Linked DNA regions of Homo sapiens. The protein of the gene in region 4 interacts with the protein of the main gene of each other region in a pairwise test. Each region holds a gene or a part of one and is shown on either strand. Other genes may lie near its edges.

What was found.
Region 1: the proteins of RAB4A (region 4) and RABGAP1 interact in a two-hybrid assay, tested with the Homo sapiens proteins (one large-scale study listed by BioGRID and IntAct).
Region 2: the proteins of RAB4A (region 4) and PTTG1IP interact in a two-hybrid assay, tested with the Homo sapiens proteins (one large-scale study listed by BioGRID and IntAct).
Region 3: the proteins of RAB4A (region 4) and IDH3A interact in a two-hybrid assay, tested with the Homo sapiens proteins (one large-scale study listed by BioGRID and IntAct).
Region 5: the proteins of RAB4A (region 4) and SOD2 interact in a two-hybrid assay, tested with the Homo sapiens proteins (one large-scale study listed by IntAct).

Annotation. Positions count from the first base shown.
Region 1 is NC_000009.12:122,947,519-122,951,037, reverse strand, and holds part of RABGAP1 (rab GTPase-activating protein 1), read right to left. Parts: intron 1-3,519. UniProt on the Homo sapiens protein: May act as a GTPase-activating protein of RAB6A. May play a role in microtubule nucleation by centrosome. May participate in a RAB6A-mediated pathway involved in the metaphase-anaphase transition.
Region 2 is NC_000021.9:44,849,687-44,853,205, reverse strand, and holds part of PTTG1IP (pituitary tumor-transforming gene 1 protein-interacting protein isoform 1 precursor), read left to right. Parts: intron 1-1,578; coding exon 1,579-1,625; coding exon of another isoform or gene 1,626-1,839; 3' UTR 1,840-3,519. UniProt on the Homo sapiens protein: May facilitate PTTG1 nuclear translocation.
Region 3 is NC_000015.10:78,152,359-78,155,877, reverse strand, and holds part of IDH3A (isocitrate dehydrogenase [NAD] subunit alpha, mitochondrial precursor), read right to left. Parts: intron 666-3,519; coding exon 603-665; intron 1-602. UniProt on the Homo sapiens protein: Catalytic subunit of the enzyme which catalyzes the decarboxylation of isocitrate (ICT) into alpha-ketoglutarate.
Region 4 is NC_000001.11:229,291,611-229,295,129, reverse strand, and holds part of RAB4A (ras-related protein Rab-4A), read right to left. Parts: intron 1-3,519. UniProt on the Homo sapiens protein: The small GTPases Rab are key regulators of intracellular membrane trafficking, from the formation of transport vesicles to their fusion with membranes.
Region 5 is NC_000006.12:159,669,229-159,672,747, reverse strand, and holds part of SOD2 (superoxide dismutase [Mn], mitochondrial isoform A precursor), read left to right. Parts: 3' UTR 1-3,519. UniProt on the Homo sapiens protein: Destroys superoxide anion radicals which are normally produced within the cells and which are toxic to biological systems.

The DNA.
Region 1 (3,519 bases), on a different chromosome or scaffold from region 4:
AAACCATCAATACTACAAAATTTCACAACCCAAAGAATTATTTCTTACTTCCACCTGCTGAAGTAAATGAAAATGCTGGCCATTTTCTTATTCTGAAACTCTTATCCTTTTGCATCCATTTCCTACCACTATCTTTTCTTAGTTCTGATTTAGGTTCCTTTTCTTCTATTTTTAAAATCACATCATCGTCCTTCTTTTCACTGGCTATCTCATTAGCTAACATGGTTACAGCTTTCTATTGTATGCTGATAACACTAGCACTGTCTTTTCTCTTGAATTCCACATGGGTATTTGTGTTATATTTTCTTTTTCTTCTATTCAGTATCAAAGAGTCTGATATGTGCCAGACACCAGGTATAGAATTATGGTGAGGAATAAAAGACACTCCTTACCTTTGACAGGCTTACAGTGGTAGAGAAAACAGACCAGTAAACAGGTAATTATAATATAGTGCTTGTTATAACAGAGGTGTGTAAAGGGTGTTATGAGAATACACAGCAGGGCTCTACTATATGCGTCCTATGGTCATCTCAAAACCAATTCCTTGCAAAACTAAACCATTTAATCCCCACGCGTCAGCAGATTCTTCTTTCTAGATTCTCTATCCTGGTTAACAGCCACAGATTCAAAACAACATCAAAAAAAAAAAAAAAAAAAAAAGAAAGAAAAAGAAAAAGAAAAAAAAGACACCAAACCAAAACAAATCTTGACTCCTCCTTTTCTCACCCTCCCTTGGAATAATGGATTTTAGTTCTAAAACATATCCCAAATATATTCCTTCTTCACTATCCCTCATGTCATTGACTTGTATTTTATTCTCTTTCAACCTGGCTATAACAAGTGTTTCATTCTAGACTCTTCCTAGTCATTGATTATTTAGCCCCCAAAGTTAATTTCTAAAACTTAGATCTGATCATATATCCCATACCTCCCCTTTCCTCAAAACTATTTATTGCTCCTGACTGAAAATACAATAAAATCCAAAATCCTTGTATTATTTAGTTCTTCAAAATCTGGAGCCAATTTCCATTCTAGTCTTATCTTCTTCTGTCACACCATACTATATACACAAATATGTCATGCATTTTAATGCTTTCAAGCCTTTTCATATGCTGCTTGCTCAGCTGGGAATGTGTTTTTGTTTCCGCAATCAGCCTTTCTCCACCAACAGCAACCTAGTGGATACAATCAAGTATTCAACCTCCCCCTTTCCCTTCTGCAGTGTTATTGTCTTCTAGGGCTCCTCAGGCTTTTTGTTTTTTAGTTCATCACAGAATTATAGCATTTACCACACAGTAAAATAATATCAACACTTTTTTTTTTTCCTTTTTTTTTTTTTTTTTTGAGACAGAGTCTTGCTTTGTCACCCAGGCTGGATGCAGTGGTATGATCTTGGCTCACTGCAACCTCTGCCTCCAGAGTTCAAGCGATTCTCCTGCCTCAGCCTCCTGAATAGCTGGGATTACAGGCATGCACCACCACGCCCAGCTAATTTTTGTTTTTGTTTTGTTATTGTTGTTTTTGAGATGGAGTTTCACTCTTGTTGCCCAGGTTGGAGTGCAATGGCATGATCTCAGCTCACTGTAACCTCCGCCTCCCAGGTTCAAGCGATTTTCCTGCCTCAGGCTCCCAAGTAGCTGGGAATTACAGGTGCCCGCCACCACGCCTGGCTAATTTTTATATTTTTAGCACAGACGGGGTTTCGCCATGTTGGCCAGGCTGGTCTCAAACTCCTGACCTCGGGTAATCCACCCACCTAGGCCTCCCAAAGTGCTGGGATTACAGGTGTGAGCCACCGCAGCCAGCCGTAATTTTTGTATTTTTAGTAGAGATGAAGTTTCACCATGTTGACCAAGCTGGTCTCAAACTCCTGACCTCAAATGATCCACCTGCCTCAGCCTCCCCAAGTGCTGGGATTACAAGCGTGAGCCACCGCACCTAGCCCAACGCTTCTTTTCTACTCCGCTATATTGATCAATCCATTCATTCCAGAAGCAATTACTGAGTATAAACCACCATGTCAAATGCTGGGAGTATAACGGGCACAAAGAGTCCCCCAAACTACTTGTGGACAGGGGTCTTATGTTTTACTCGTAGTAATTTCATTTCCTTACTTACGGGCAGTGTTCAATAAATTTGGTTGGTTGAATATACTTCATGGCTGTTTAACTAGTAGGGTCTAAGTAATATGAGGAAAACAAATGACAAACATGCTACTCTACATGCATGTACTGGGGATGTGGACATGGATGAAGACTAAACTCTTCATCAAATCCCCAACTGTCATGATCAAAAAACAGTTAACACAGTCACAAAAAATATACCTTGGGTTCCCTTTGGACCAAACACTAACCACTTCCCTCCCAATCCCCATCATTTTTGTTGCTCAACCAGTGAAAAAATGGGTACAGCTTTAGGGAATCTTAAGCAAGATGACTAAATCATCTTGCTAAATCAAAAGAGAAAACAATACTTATTACTTCTTGAGTGTCAATTATATGCCCAACATGGTACGAACAAGTTTTACTTGCATTATTACTAATCTTCACACCTTGCCAGATGGGTATTAAGTTCATATGACAGACAAACTAAGGCTTGGGCAGGCTGAGTAACTCGCTTAAGTTCAGAGAGAAAATTGTGGAACTTGATCCAAACCCAAGTATCTAGGTGTCTCTGTTCTTTTCTGGATTGCATCTCTCTCCCTCTCGATGTCCCTATCTCCATCCTCTCCCAATTCCAATCCATCCTCTATGCTGCTCCCAGTTGTACCCTTCTAAAACACAAATCTGGTGAGTTTACTCTCTGTTTAGAAAAAGAACAAGACAGGATGCAACAAAAGAATCAAGTCTGAAAGATGCTGTAGCAGGATAATTCCTGTGGGTTTGTAGCTCTTTAAAATTAAACAAGCAGGGTACAAAGAAGCTATAAAAAATCACATTGCATTAGTTTCAGTTTGTGTGTGTGTGTGTGTGTGTGTGTGTGTGTGTGTGTGTGTTTTCCTGGCTCTGAACTTTGTTTCACTGCACTGGTTTTCACATGAATTTCACACAGCCTATCCCTGGAAAGGGTGGGACAAATCAAACAAAACTCAATGGAACACCATCCCTTCTTTATAAAAATAAATTCCTTTCCACCACTACTAACTGCTAAACAATAGATGTCTTTGTTTTCATTCTGACTCTGAATTTTGAGACTATTTCTTTGAATTATTTTAGTGAGCTAAGAGAATCATAATAATTTAAGCTTTCTGATTAATTTCAGGTTACGTTAAAAAACCAAAACCAAAACCAAAAGAATCAAAACAATCATCTTGGGCCTACCTGCACTTAAAGGCAAGAAAAACTAGCTTATCTAAAACTCACGCTTAGGCAAATTTGAGCCTACCGTAACTGTGACAATTTACTTCTTTAAACTATTAAATCACTTTTAGTTCAATTCTACATTAACTAAAAAAGATATCGGAATTAAACAAATACAGGAAATTGTAAAACAAAATAAAACTTTAAAACATCTTTTTTA
Region 2 (3,519 bases), on a different chromosome or scaffold from region 4:
AAAAGACAAGGTGGATACACACACACGCACACGCGCACACACGCACACACTGCCCAGCACCTGTTATCACCAAGCACAAGCTGTGTTTAAGTTGCTCGACCTTTACTGTGCCCTGACTCCCAGCGGGTGTGAGGCTGTGGGTGGCCGGCCAGGCTCTTGGAGTGGTGTCTTCTGTGTCAGGGCCCTGATTGACTTGCACTTGCCATTTTGGTGGTTAATTTGGCCCTTTAATTGCATTGATGAAATGAGCTTTTTGTGCCAGTTTGTAATAAAGCCATTGAATGGCCTGTGCTTTGGAAAGCCTCGGCTAGTTAGAAGAATTCCTAGGAATTCCTGATGGGAGAGTGCGAGAAAGCATGTGAGTCCACCTGGTGCAGTTATATAAAATACCAGCACGCACGCAAAAACCCTTCTTTTGGTTTTGGTTTTCCCTCTAAACTGGAAGTAGACTCAGGAGCGAGTTTTTCAATAAGAACTTAACCAGCCTCCTTGCTAGTATCTGATGACTCTTTCCCAAAACCGACTTTGAGCCTCACTCCCAAAGCCTGATGCCTGTGGCCCTCCTTGACAGGCAAGAAAGAAACATGGCTAGGCCCTTCCTTACCATCCCTCTGCTTCCCCGCCGCCTCTTCCACCCAGCCCCCAGAATACATGCAGTGAGTAGCTTTGTTGTAATCGCTGCAGATAATTTTAGTGTACAATACAGATTGTTAAAGGGAGAGAGAGGCCAGGCACGGTGGCTCACGCCTGTAATCCCAACACTTTGGGAGACCAAGGTGGTGGATCACCTGAGGTTGGGAGTTCGAGACCAGCCTGACCAACATGGTGAAACCCCGTCTCTACTAAAAATACAAAAATTAGCCAAGTATGGTGGTGGGTGCCTGCAGTCCTAGCTACCCGGAGGCTGAGGCAGGAGAATTCCTTGAACCCAGGAGGCGGAGATTGCAGTGAGCCGAGACTGCGCCATTGCACTCTATCCTGGGCAACAAGAGCAAAACTCTGTCTCAAAAAAAAATAAAAAATAAAGGGAGAGAGAGTGTGTGTATGTGTGTGTGTTTCTGCAGTGTGAAGGGAAAACTCCTGGTCTTTGGGTAAGTAGCACAGGTTTACTCTTATGATTAAATACACATTTTATCCCAGTTTTGTCAGAGTACTCGAGAGTTAGATTGATGGTCATCTTAGTTCTTTCTGTAGCCTTAATTCCAAAGGTTTAAGAGCAGCTATAAGCACAAAGTAAGGTTATTTTGTTTAATAGTAGCCATCCACTGTGGAACTAGCCAACCACTGTGGAAAGAAATACTTGCCTTAAATTTCTTTTCTTCGCCGAGCATCAGGAAGTAAGTGCTTATCTCTTAGGATCTGTTAGAGTTCTTGTTTCTAGTAAATTTTATTTCAGTTTTAAAGTTTAAAGTGGTTTGACTTCAAAAAAGGTTAAGCACTGTATGAGAGCCTGCTTACAATGCCCGTTGTTGCTATAGCCTCAGTAAATCTTCTTATAAAGCTTGGTTTGTATGGCTTTCTAAGATTTTGTTTCTGGTTGAATGAATGAAGTTATGATTCAAGTTTATTTTGTTTCAGGCCTGTTTAAAGAAGAAAACCCGTATGCTAGATTTGAAAACAACTAAAGCGCTCCAGCACATCAGTCCCGACGCTTCCTGTGAGGTGCACGCTCCGCAGCCCAGCCCAGCCGGGAGACCACGTGGCCATTGCGGTCTCCTGACCTTGGCCAGTGAACCTGCCAGCCTTCCAGGACAGGCGGCCGGAGAGCTGCCCCTGAAGGACAGTCCTCTCGTCTTGCAGACTGGTGACCTTCTATTCCCTGTTCATCTCTGTTTCTAGATTTAGTCACTTGAAATAAGAAATCTTTGGGGTTTGGGCTTTTTTATACTCTTCTCAGTTTGTGAAACGCTAACTGCACACGAAGCCGCCTGACGGCACCCAGCGCTGTGGCTGTCATTCTCCCAGGGCAGAACCCTGCGTTTCTCTCTGTCCACTAACAAGCTTCACACGCAACACAGGGAAGTCGGTTTGACTTTTGTCATGAGGAGAACTGACCAGCCCTCATCATTCCCCATAAAACCACGGACAGCGTCTGTGTGCGCATCTTGAGTCTTCACACCTGTTGACTCACACGGCTTTTGCTGATGACACGGGGCTCCAGTACACAGTCTGATAAGGACTTAACGTCCTAACCTCAATTGTATTAAATAGCATTGGGGAATAGCTAAACCTTTTTAAAAAAATTTATTGGATTTTCCTCCCTGCTTAAAAGATTTCACCAGAAAACCTTCATATAAAAATTCAGGCCCTTTTTGGACAATTTTTAAAATTTGTATCTTTACTAGAACATGAGAATCTTTTTCCCTTGGAAGCTTGAATTATAAATGTGGTGTTTGGCCTGCCTCAGCAGCACCAGTTGACTGCTCGTGTGCCAGCGGTGTGGGGAGGACGGGGCAGGACGCTGCAGCTCTCTCCAGCCCTGTTGGCATCCTCAGTGCCTGCAGGCCTCTCGCTGCCTGTTGGGCTGTCTGGGGGGTGGCCATTTAGGGATCGTGGGGACGGGGTCCACCCCAAGAAGAAAGAAAGGCCCGTCCACAGGCCCGGCTCTGGGCCACGTGCCCCGGAAGCAGGTGTGTCCAGAGTCAGCTGAGGGCTCTCCCCACACCACCCAGCAGGCGCTGGTGCTCCTTCTGCCTCATGGGACCAGTCCAGCTTCCAGCCGCTCTGGCTCGAGGGTGGTCTGACCACTTCCTTCTGAGTGGGCTTCTCTGGGAGCTCTCCAGTGGCACTGCTGGACCTGCCCACGTTTCTGTAAAATCAGGATACGTGGCTTTAGTAAGCAGACCAAGCGCTTCGTGGCAGGGAAAGCAGCGTGCGGGGAAGTCACTGAAAAGTGCTGCCTAAGGAAGTTTGGAAATAGTCCCTGTTCCAGATTGCCTTGAATTTTAAAACATTTTGCTTTGGGAAAGTAGGTCAGCAGCACCTAAGATCAAGGATGCGTTCCATTTTCACACTTCACAGTCATGAAAACTGAGAAGACTGTCTTCAGCGTGAACTAAAGTTCACAGGCAGATCACTGATCCAGAACACTTCAAGAACTCGTCAAACAGCTCGATAAGCCTTTTTGACTGTGTACATCTGTACCGGGAATAACATTCCTAGGCTGAAATTTCCACAAAGAATAGAACCTGTACCCAGTTCTTCAGGCTGATTTCCCTGACCTCTTGGGCATTTGTATTTGTAGTAAAGTATTGCAGAGATTCCTAAGTATTTTATAGCAGCCATCAAAATTGGACTTTGTATTGTTTATTCATAAAAGACACTTGGTAATAGACTTCAGTGAACTCTGTATGAATGCAGTAGTGTGTGTGCAAAATCCGCTTCCTGAGCGTAGGGTGCTGAGCTGGCGCTAGGGCTCGGTTGTGAAATACAGCGTAGTCAGCCCTTGCGCTCAGTGTAGAAACCCACGTCTGTAAGGTCGGTCTTCGTCCATCTGCTTTTTTCTGAAATACACTAAGA
Region 3 (3,519 bases), on a different chromosome or scaffold from region 4:
GACCCACAGTCTTAGAATGTTCCAAAAATGTGGTATCAGCTTTTAAAGCACAGAATTCTGATGCTGGGAATTCTAAAAGCAGCAGATTTAATGAACAATAGATGATCTACTACTGTGATAGTCTACAAAGCCTATATAAGGCAAGTATAAGCCTACAAGGCTTATAGATGTTCGAGGCATTCCTAATTGGCACTCAATCTACTGGGTTTAGGGAAGCCCATAAAATAAAAATGCAAAGCAGGTTTTGAAGCTTCTCAACAATTTTCTCTCAACTTGTACTAGTTTTGAAAAAAGCTGTCTCACCAAAATGAGATTGTGAAATAAAATAACAGGCTCAAGGGTACTTTCTATTTTTAACAAGGCTCCCTCAAGATATTAATGTGACAAACTTACATAGCCAGCTGTAAGATAATTCTTTCAAATGCGCAAGTAACCTAACAGATTTGTGCATGTCAGCCAGTAATTTCAACATACATTATAAATATGGCCAATTTTCCCAAATTCTAAATGAATGGAGATAAAATGCTATATAATAAATATGTTAGAGCATCTTTCTTGAGAAACTTCTAAAAGGAAAAAATAAAAGACATAATTATACTCACACCACCAGTAAAACCTCTGGTCACCTGTTTTGGGTTGTGGAATGCCCCCAGCAGCCGAGAGACCTATATTAATATCAACAGAGAAATATCACACACAGAATTAAACCACATACAGTAAACAAGAGCGAGGAAGTCCTGATGGATGGTAATGCTGCAACTTGGCACAGATATATTCAGTAGCTTCCCAGGAATACAAATCTCATGTATTAGCTCAATGTGGCAAGCTATCTCAGATTTGAAAGCCTAAATACTCAGATTTTTACTTTAGATTGAGTACTGTATATTTTCAAAGTCAATTTAACGAATATAAGTTGTCAAATAAAAGATGTTGAAGGTAGAATAAAACTACTTTTTCAGCTCAACATACAGATTCTTCTCAGATGAGTGGATCATTTTGTGCCAACATTCTTGACCATTCGGTCAATTTAGGGGTAACATATATTCTAAGAAAATTACCATTAATTTTAGAGCCAGGATGTTCCTCATGAAATCCAGAGCACAACTCACTTATTTCTTGTTGTTGTTTTAGGCTTTTTGAGATGGGGTCTCCCTAGGTTGCCCAGGATGGAGTGCAGTGACTATTCAAAGGCACAATCATAACTCACTGCAGTCTCCAACTCCTGGGCTCAAGTGACCCTCTTGCCTCAGCCTCCTGAGTAGGTGGGATTACAGGTGTGCACCACGACACCTGGCAACTTGCTTATTTCATAAGCGGAGATGCTGGTCCCAAAGAAAAGCATTTGCCTAAGGTCACACAGCGAATAATTGGCAAAATGGAAACCCACATACAGGTCTTCTGACTCCTGGTCCAGTGCTCCTTCAATTATACATTATATCTATTCTGTGAATATTAAGAAATTACACTTTATAGTAAAATCTAAGAAAGTTTATTTAATACCATCTGATGCCCATGCCATACAGAATAAAGATTTTAAATAAATTACTGCTTCTTCTGATAATATAGGTAATGTGGTCATTACTGTCAGTTTGCTGGGACTAGGAAAAGATACAAAATATAAAATAAAAGTTACCCAGTAATCCCACCACACCAAGATATTACCACTGGTACGTGTTTTTTTTTTTTTTTCTCTCTCCAATTAACATCATATGCCAGAAATATAAATTTTAAAGGTTTATTATAAACTTTAATAACTTAGTCCTTGAGAACTGGTACAAAGTCATACTACATTATTATAAACAATATAAAAAAAGAAACTGGGTACATAGACCAAAGGTATTAAAATGCATTAAATTTTTTTTTTTTTGAGACAGAGTTTCACTCTTGTTGCCCAGGCTGGAGTGCAATGGTGCAATCTCGGCTCACTGCAACCACCACCTCCTGGGTTTGCCTCAGCCTCCTGAAAGTAGCTGGGATTACAGGGATGCACCACCATGCCCGGCTAATCTTGTTGTATTTTTAGTAGAGACAGGGTTTCTCCATGTTGGCCCGGCTGGTCTCAAACTCCTGACCTCAGGTGATCCACCTGCCTTGGACACCCAAAGTGCTGGGATTACAGGCATGAGCCACCACACCCGGCTGCATTAAATTTTTTAAAAAGTAACTTTTTCTCCTGCTAGATACATGAGCAAAGACACATTTGTTATATCCTATCTTGATGTTTTTTTCTGGGGTCTGAACCTTTGCTGAAATATTTATTGGTAACAACCAACAGCCAAGAAAGGTATGAATGAATTTTATTCTCTAATCTTCTGGTATCTATAGTCATGACTCTGCATTGAAAATAAGACTGGGCCAAATCCAAAAGAATGCCAAAACCATTGGCCAAAATGTTAATCCTAGGGCATGATTCATCCACCAGCGAGTGGGCTATTGGAAGGGAGGCCATTTAAAGGCTACTTTGTGACAAGAAAATTGACATGTGTCCTTTCTCCTCTCCCTGAACAAAAAAGAAGGAAAAGACATTCACACAAAACTCATGTCCTTGTGACAGAAGACCCAACCAACCAGGCTGTGCAACAAAGTGAGACCCTGTCTCTACAAAATTAGCCAGGTATGGTGGTGCACACCAATGGTCTCAGCTACATGGGAGGCTAAGTCGGCTTGAGCTCAGGACTGCTTGAGCCCAGGAGCTTGAGGCTTCTGTGAGCTATGATTATGCCACTGCACTCCAGCCTAGGTAATGGACAAAAAAAAGAAAAAAAGAAAGAAAGAATGAAAAAGACCCGACTCAAACAACTGATTTTAAAATGTAAACCCATCCTACCTGCATATGCTGGGGGCAGCAATGTAAACCCAGGAGTGTAAGGATTTGTGTTTTGTTCACTGTTGTATCTAGTGTCTAGAACAGTCCCTGGCTCATAGAAGGTATTCAATAATTTAAAAAAAAACAAAACAACAATCAAACAAAACTGAGTCCAGCCTCAGTCACATCTCTATCTGAAGAGTTTCCAAGCCAACAAGTAGCCTTAATACTTGCAATGATCTTCTTTAAGGACCAGTCTTTTCCATGTTTGTCATCTCTCTTGCATGATCTTAGAATAAAGCAGTACTGCACCTAAGTCATCACAATGACCCAGAACTTTAAGTAAAATAAAATTTTCCAAAGCACCATTTAAAGGTTACTTCGTGACAAGCAGAGCATAAAAGTGACATGAGGCCGGATGCGGTGGCTCACGCCTGTAATCCCAGCACTTTGGGAGGCTGAGGCAGGCAAATCACCTGAGGTCAGGAGTTCAAGACCAGCCTGACTAACATGGAGAAACCCTGTCTCTACTAAAAATACAAAATTAGCCAGGCGTGGTGGCACATGCCTGTAATCCCAGCTATTCAGGAGGCTGAGGGAGGAGAATCACTTGAACCCAGGAGGCAGAGGTTGCGGTGAGCCAAGATCGCGCCATTGCACTCTAGCCTGGGTGACAAGAGCAAAACTCCATCTCAAAAAAAAAAAAAAAAAAA
Region 4 (3,519 bases):
AAATTAGCCAGGTATGGCAGTACACACCTGTAATCCCAGCTACTCAGGAGGCTGAGACAGAAGGACTGTTTGATCCCAGGAATTTGAGGTGACGGTGAGCGATCATGCCACTGCACTCCAGCCCAGGCAACAGAAAGAAAAAAAAAAAAAAGCCAGGAGTTCAGGATTTTTCCTATTAGCAAAATAAAAATAAATTGGCTCTGGTACCGCCCATCTTAAAACACAAAACAGAAATATGCTGCACCATCTTTTCAGTTACTGTCCCACTGTCTGCTCTTCTCCACATCCAACTGTCTTTTTTGAGACAGAGTTTCGCTCGTTACCCAGGCTAGAGTGCAATGGCGCGATCTCAGCTCTCTGCAACCTCTGCCTCCCAGGTTCAAGCAATTCTCCTGCCTCAGCCTCCTGAGTAGCTGCACCCGCCACCACGCCTGGCTAATTTTTGTATTTTTAGTACAGACGGGGTTTCCCCATGTTAGCCAGGCTGGTCTCGAACTCTTGACCTCGGATGATCCACCCGCCTCGGCCTCCCAAAGTGCTGGGATTACAGGCGTGAGCCACCACGCGTGGCCCCACATCCAACTTTCTGAAAGAGCTGTCTTTACCTGCAGCTTCCTCTTCTTCACCGCCAACCTAGTGTCCATCTCTGCTACTCCCCAAAAGCCTGTCAAGGTCCCCACCCTCTCTGCAACCGAAGCTGGAGTGGGCATTTCTGTCCTCACTCACTCGCGCAGCCTCTGCGCCCTGCACTCTGCTAGTCTTCCTCCCGCTCACCAGCCACTTCTCTGGCTCTGGTCATTCTTCTGAATCTGCCCTGCTGGGATTGCGATTCCCCAGAGCTGGGTCCTGGGCTCTCTTAACATTCGACTCAAATTTTGTCTCCAGCTCAGATCCAAGTGCTGCCTCCATATCTCCATGAGACTGCCTGATAAACATGTCAAACTTAACATCTGCACAGCAGGACTCTTTTTGGTCCCACCCTCCAGGCCCGTCCTGGCCTAGGAAGAGGCATCACCACGCACCCTGTTTCTAAAGCAAATCAGCTCCACATTCATCCTCAATTCCTGTGCACCTCCACATTCACTCCGCCAGCCTAGTGCAGTCTCCTACACTACACAAATCCTGTGTCTGCCCACGCTGCTGTCCCTGCTGCCATGTGTGGCCCACAGTCCATTCTTCAGAGCAGCCCAACTCATCAAGGCCCAGGACAGGACATCTCCGTCACTGTACCTGTCCCTTTGGCCCCATTCTCTTCCCTGCTCCCAGCCCCTGCCACTCCCGTCTGGGCTCGTCACACCGCTGGCTTTCCTTGTCCCTTGGGTCTCATTAACTCTATCTCCTCAGCAACGTTCCCCAAGCATCCCCATCCAGTGGACCCCCTCTATCTCAGCGTGCTGTCTCCTGGGTGGCACCATCCCACTTGGTGGGATGCTCTTTCTGTCTCTGTCTCTGTGTTGGCTGCCTGCCTCCCCTCCATGGGGCAGGGCTCTGCTGTCTCACTCACCAGAGGATCCCAGTGCCTAGCACAGGGCCTGGACCACTGCTAGCTAGACATTCCCAGAACTTAACTGTGGCCTAATTAAATTAAAAAATATATATTTGGTCTTCGTCCCAGGTTCCTGGCACAGAGGCCCAAACCCCTGTGATTTCCTTAGTGATAAAGGTGTCTTTTGTAAGCCAAGGAGATAACTGTGGGAAGAGTAGCAGGCTAGAGAGCCTTGGGATCGGGGCTGTGGCCGTGGGAGCCCTCACCGAGTGAGGAGAGTGCTGGAACTTATAGCCTCACCTCAGCCCTCTGGGGAGGAAAGAGGAGCTGGAGATTGAGTCAATCATCAATGGATAATGTTTTAATCAATCGTGCCTTTGTAATAAAACCTCCACAAAAAAACCAAAAGGATGGGGGTCAGAGAGCTCCTGGGCTGGTGGTGGCATGGAGGTGCTGGGAGGTGGCCCATCCCCATACCTCGTCTCCTAAGCATCTCCTCCACCAGGCTGTGCCTGAATTGACACCTATCTAACAAACCAGTAAATGCCAGGAAAAATGTTTTTCCTGAGTTGTGTGAATCATTCTAACAAATTCTCCAACCTGATGGGGATGTGAGGGATGGAGGGTGTGGGAACTGCCAGATCTGTATTTGGCCAAGAAGTGCAGGAAGCCTGGGCACTCCAGTTGTGACTGGTGTCTGAAGCGGGGGTGGCAGTCTAGGTCTCCTTAGCCTGGAGGGTCCCCTTTAACTCTGGGTAGTGTCAAAAGTGAATTGAAGTGTTGGACACCCAGCTGGTGTCAGAGAATCCGACTGGCTGGTGTGAAGAAAAACCCCATAGACTTGATGTCAGAAAAAAAAAGACACCAGAGGAATGAACTATCCTTGGAGAACAAAGAAACCCGTGCAGCTTGCAACAAACAAACAAACAAAATTACTAATTATTACTTTGCTGCTTGGCAAAGAAGAGCTACTTTTAAATGTACTTTTTAGCTCTTAGTCAGGAAGCTTCAAGGTCTTCATGTAGCTTGAAGCTTTTCCTCTCTGCCTTGAGACTGTTAGCAAGAGGCACACGCTTTAAGGACTGGTGGCAGGTAGAGGTGCAGAGTGGACTGTTTGCTCTTCACCCCACAGCCTCCTAAGGCAGGGGGAAAGGCCTCGCTTGTTCACATCTATTAAGAGGCAGCGCCTTTCTATTCTTGCTCAGCAGGCACCTAGCTTCTAGAGGAAGAGGGAACTACGAGTTCTCTTCAAGATAAGCTGTATCACATCTACTTCTTAAAATTTTACTTTCAAATTTATTTTACAACACTGTCTTGACAAATAGTTTCTTATACAAATTACTCCAGTATACAAATATACACATTTAAGAATACTACTTTGAGGTGTTAAATTTTCTTTTTTTTTTCCTTTTATTTATTTATTATTATTATACTTTAAGTTTTAGGGTACCTGTGCACAATGTGCAGGTTACATATGTATGTATACATGTGCCATGCTGGTGTGCTGCAACCGCTAACTCGTCATCTAGCATTAGGTATATCTCCCATTGCTATCCCTCCCCCCTCCCCCCACCCCACAACAGTCCCCAGAGTGTGATGTTCCCCTTCCTGTGTCCATGTGTTCTCATTATTCAATTCCCACCTATGAGTGAGAATATGCAGTGTTTGGTTTTTTGTTCTTGCGATAGTTTACTGAGAATGATGATTTCCAATTTCATCCATGTCCCTACAAAGGACACGAACTCATCATTTTTTATGGCTGCATAGTATTCCATGGTGTATATGTGCCACATTTTCTTACAAAAGTAATTTAACCAATATAATACATGTGGATAGTTTTAAAGTGAAATGTCACGAAAAGTCTCTAAATTAAACACAGCCATCTCCTGCCTCACTCCTCTCTGGGAGCCCTACTCTCCACAAGCGAGGTGAGTTCTCTCTTTCTGGTAACTGGGTTTCCTTTAATTAAGTCATTAAAAGAGCACATACTGCGCCCCTGTGTGCTAGACACTATTCTGGGCACAGGGGAAACA
Region 5 (3,519 bases), on a different chromosome or scaffold from region 4:
TAATATTGTTATGTGTGAATTTGATCCTGTCACTAGGATGTTCACTGGTTATTTTGCTCGTTAGTTGATGCAGTTTCTTCCTAGCCTCAATGGTCTTTACAATTTGGCATGTTTTTGCAGTGGCTGATACTGGTTGTTCCATTCCATGTTTAGTGCTTCCTTCAGGAGCTCTTGTAAGGCAGGCCTGGTGGTGACAAAATCTCTCAGCATTTGCTTGTTTGTAAAGGATTTTATTTCTCCTTCACTTATGAAGCTTAGTTTGGCTGGATATGAAATTCTGGGTTGAAAATTCTTTTCTTCAAGAACGTTGAATATTGACCCCCACTCTCTTCTGGCTTGTAGAGTTTCTGCTGAGAGATCAGCTGTTAGTCTGATGGGCTTCCCTTTGTGGGTAACCCGACCTTTCTCTCTGGCTGCCCTTAACATTTTTTCCTTCATTTCAACTTTGGTGAATCTGACAATTATGTGTCTTGGAGTTGCTCTTCTCGAGGAGTATCTTTGTGGCGTTCTCTGTATTTCCTGAATTTGAATGTTGTCCTCCCTTGCTAGATTGGGGAAGTTCTCCTGGATAATATCCTGCAGAGTGTTTTCCAGCTTGGTTCCATTCTCCCCGTCACTTTCAGGTACACCAATCAGACGTAGATTTGGTCTTTTCACATAGTCCCATATTTCTTGGAAGCTTTGTTCGTTTCTTTTTACTCTTTTTTCTCTTAACTTCTCTTCTCACTTCATTTCATTCATCTGATCTTCAATCACTGATAACCTTTCTTCCAGTTGATCGAATTGGCTACTGAAGCTTGTGCATTCGTCACGTAGTTCTCATGCCATGGTTTTCAGCTCCATCAGGTCATTTAAGGACTTCTCTATGCTGGTTATTCTAGTTAGCCATTTGTCTAATCTTTTTTCAAGGTTTTTAGGTTCTTTGTGATGGGTTCGAACTTCCTCTTTTAGCTTGGAGAAGTTTGATCATCTGAAGCCTTCTTCTCTCAACTCGTCAAAGTCATTCTCCGTCCAGCTTTGTTCTGTTGCTGGCAAGGAGCTATGTTCCTTTGGAGGGGGAGAGGCGCTCTGATTTTTAGAATTTTCAGCTTTTCTGCTCTGTTTTTTCCCCATCTTTGTGGTTTTATCTACCTTTGGTCTTTGGTGATGGTGATGTGCAGATGGGGTTTTGGTGTGGATGTCCTTTCTGTTTGTTAGTTTTCCTTCTAACAGTCAGGACCGCCAGCTGCAGGTCTGTTGGAGTTTGCTGGACGTCCACGCCAGACCCTGTTTGCCTGGGTATCACAGTGGAGGCTGTAGAACAGCGAATATTGCTGAACAGCAAATGTTGCTGCCTGATCATTCCTCTGGAAGCTTCATCTCAGAGGGGTACCCGGCCATGTGGGGTGTCAGTCTGCCCCTACTTGGGGGTGCCTCCCAGTTAGGCTACTCGGGGGTCAGGGACTCACTTGAGGAGGCAGTCTCTCCGTTCTCAGATCTCAAACTCTGTGCTGGGAGAACCACTGGTCTCTTCAAAGCTGTCAGACAGGGACATTGAAGTCTGCAGAGATTTCTGCTGCCTTTTGTTCGGCTATGCCATGCCCCCAGAGGTGGAGTCTACAGAGGCAGGCAGGCAGGCCTCCTTGAGCTGCAGTGGGCTCCACCTAGTTCGAGCTTCCCGGCTGCTTTATTTACCTACTGAAGCCTCAGCAATGGTGGGCTCCCCTCCCCTAGCCTCACTGCCACCTTGCAGTTCGATCTCAGACTGCTGTGCTAGCAATGAGCAAGGCTCCATGGGCGTGGGACCCTCCGAGCTAGGCACAGGATATAATCTCCTGGTGTGCCGTTTGCTAAGACCATTGGAAAAACGCAGTATTAGGGTGGGAGTGACCCAATTTTCCAGGTGCCGTCTGTCACAGCTTCCCTTGGCTAGGAAAGGGAATTCCCTGACCCCTTGCCTTCCCGGGTGAGGCCATGCCTTGCCCTGCTTCAGCTCATGCTCAGTGGGCTGCACCCACCGTCCTACACCCACTGTCCAACAAGCCCCAGTGAGATGAACCTGGTACCTCAGTTGGAAGTGCAGAAATCACCTGTCTTCTGCGTCGCTCACGCTGGGAGCTGTAGACTGGAGCTGTTCCTATTCGGCCATCTTGGAACCCAACCCAAGTCTGGCATTTTTTGGTTTTCTCTGTGTATTGACTATGATTATAGAGGATAAATGGATATTGATATTATTAAATCGTCATTTACAGAAGGCACACAACTTATATCCTTTAAACAAAGTTCTCCAACCAGTAGGGTATACTTGCTGGTAGTGCTTACAGCTGCCACCATTCTTCACTGGGGCTCAGAGTGGATGCCTGGAGGAAAAAAACAAATGAATCTTTTAGCTCCTAGTTACTGTTAGCATTTTTACCAGAAAACAATTTAAAAAATGACACAAGTAAGTCTTCACCTATCAAGGCTGAGTGTGGTGGCCTATACTTGTAATCTCTGTGCTTTGGGAGGCCAACGCAGGAGGATCTCTTGAGTCCAGGAGTTTGAGACCAGCCTGGGCAACAAAGCAAGACCCCATCTCTACAGAAAGTTAAAATTTAGCTGGGCATGCTGGCACATCCCTATAGTCCCAGCTACTTGAGAGGCTGAGTTGGGAGGATCCCTTGAGGTCATGAGTTGGAGTCTACAGTGAGCTGTGATTACAGTGTGAGTCTACACTGCACTCCAGTCTGGGTGAAAGAGATCCTGTCTCTCAAAAAACAAGTGATTCTCCTGGGAAGAGATTTGTTTAAAAAGTCTGCACCTCTATTGATGATAACTTTGAATGTAAATGGATTAAATTCTCCCACTTAAAAGATATAGATTGACTGAATGGATTAAAAACCACCATCATGACTCGACTGTATGCTGCCTACAAGAAACCTCACCTGTAAAGACAGGCCAAAAGTGAAGGTATGGAGAAAGATATTGCATACAAATGGAAGCCAAAAAAGAGCAGAAATAACTATACTTACATGAGATAAAATAGACTTTAAGTCAAAAACTGTAAAAAGAAAAGTCATTATGTAATGAAACAAGGATCAATTCATGCAAGATATAATCATATTTTTTTATTAAGAAAATTTTTTTGTAGAGATGGGGTTATGCTATGTTGCCTGGCTAGTCTCAAACTCTGGGTCTCAAAGCAGTCCTCCTGCTTTGGCCTCCTAAGGTGCTGGGATTATAGGCATGAGCCACTGTGCCAGGCCTGAGGATATTATCATTATAAATATATATGTACCCCACACTGGATGACCCAGATATAAAGCAAATATTATTAGATTTAAAGGGAGAAATAGACTCTAATACAATAGTAGTTGAGGACTTCACTCTACTCTCAGCATTGGACAGATTTTCTAGACATAAAACCAATAAATATTGGATTTAAATTGCACTTTACACCAAATGGACCTGACATTTACAGAACATTCTAATAGGTGCAGAACACTCTAATAGCTGCAGAACACACGTTCTTTTCATCAGCACATGGAACATTCACCAGAC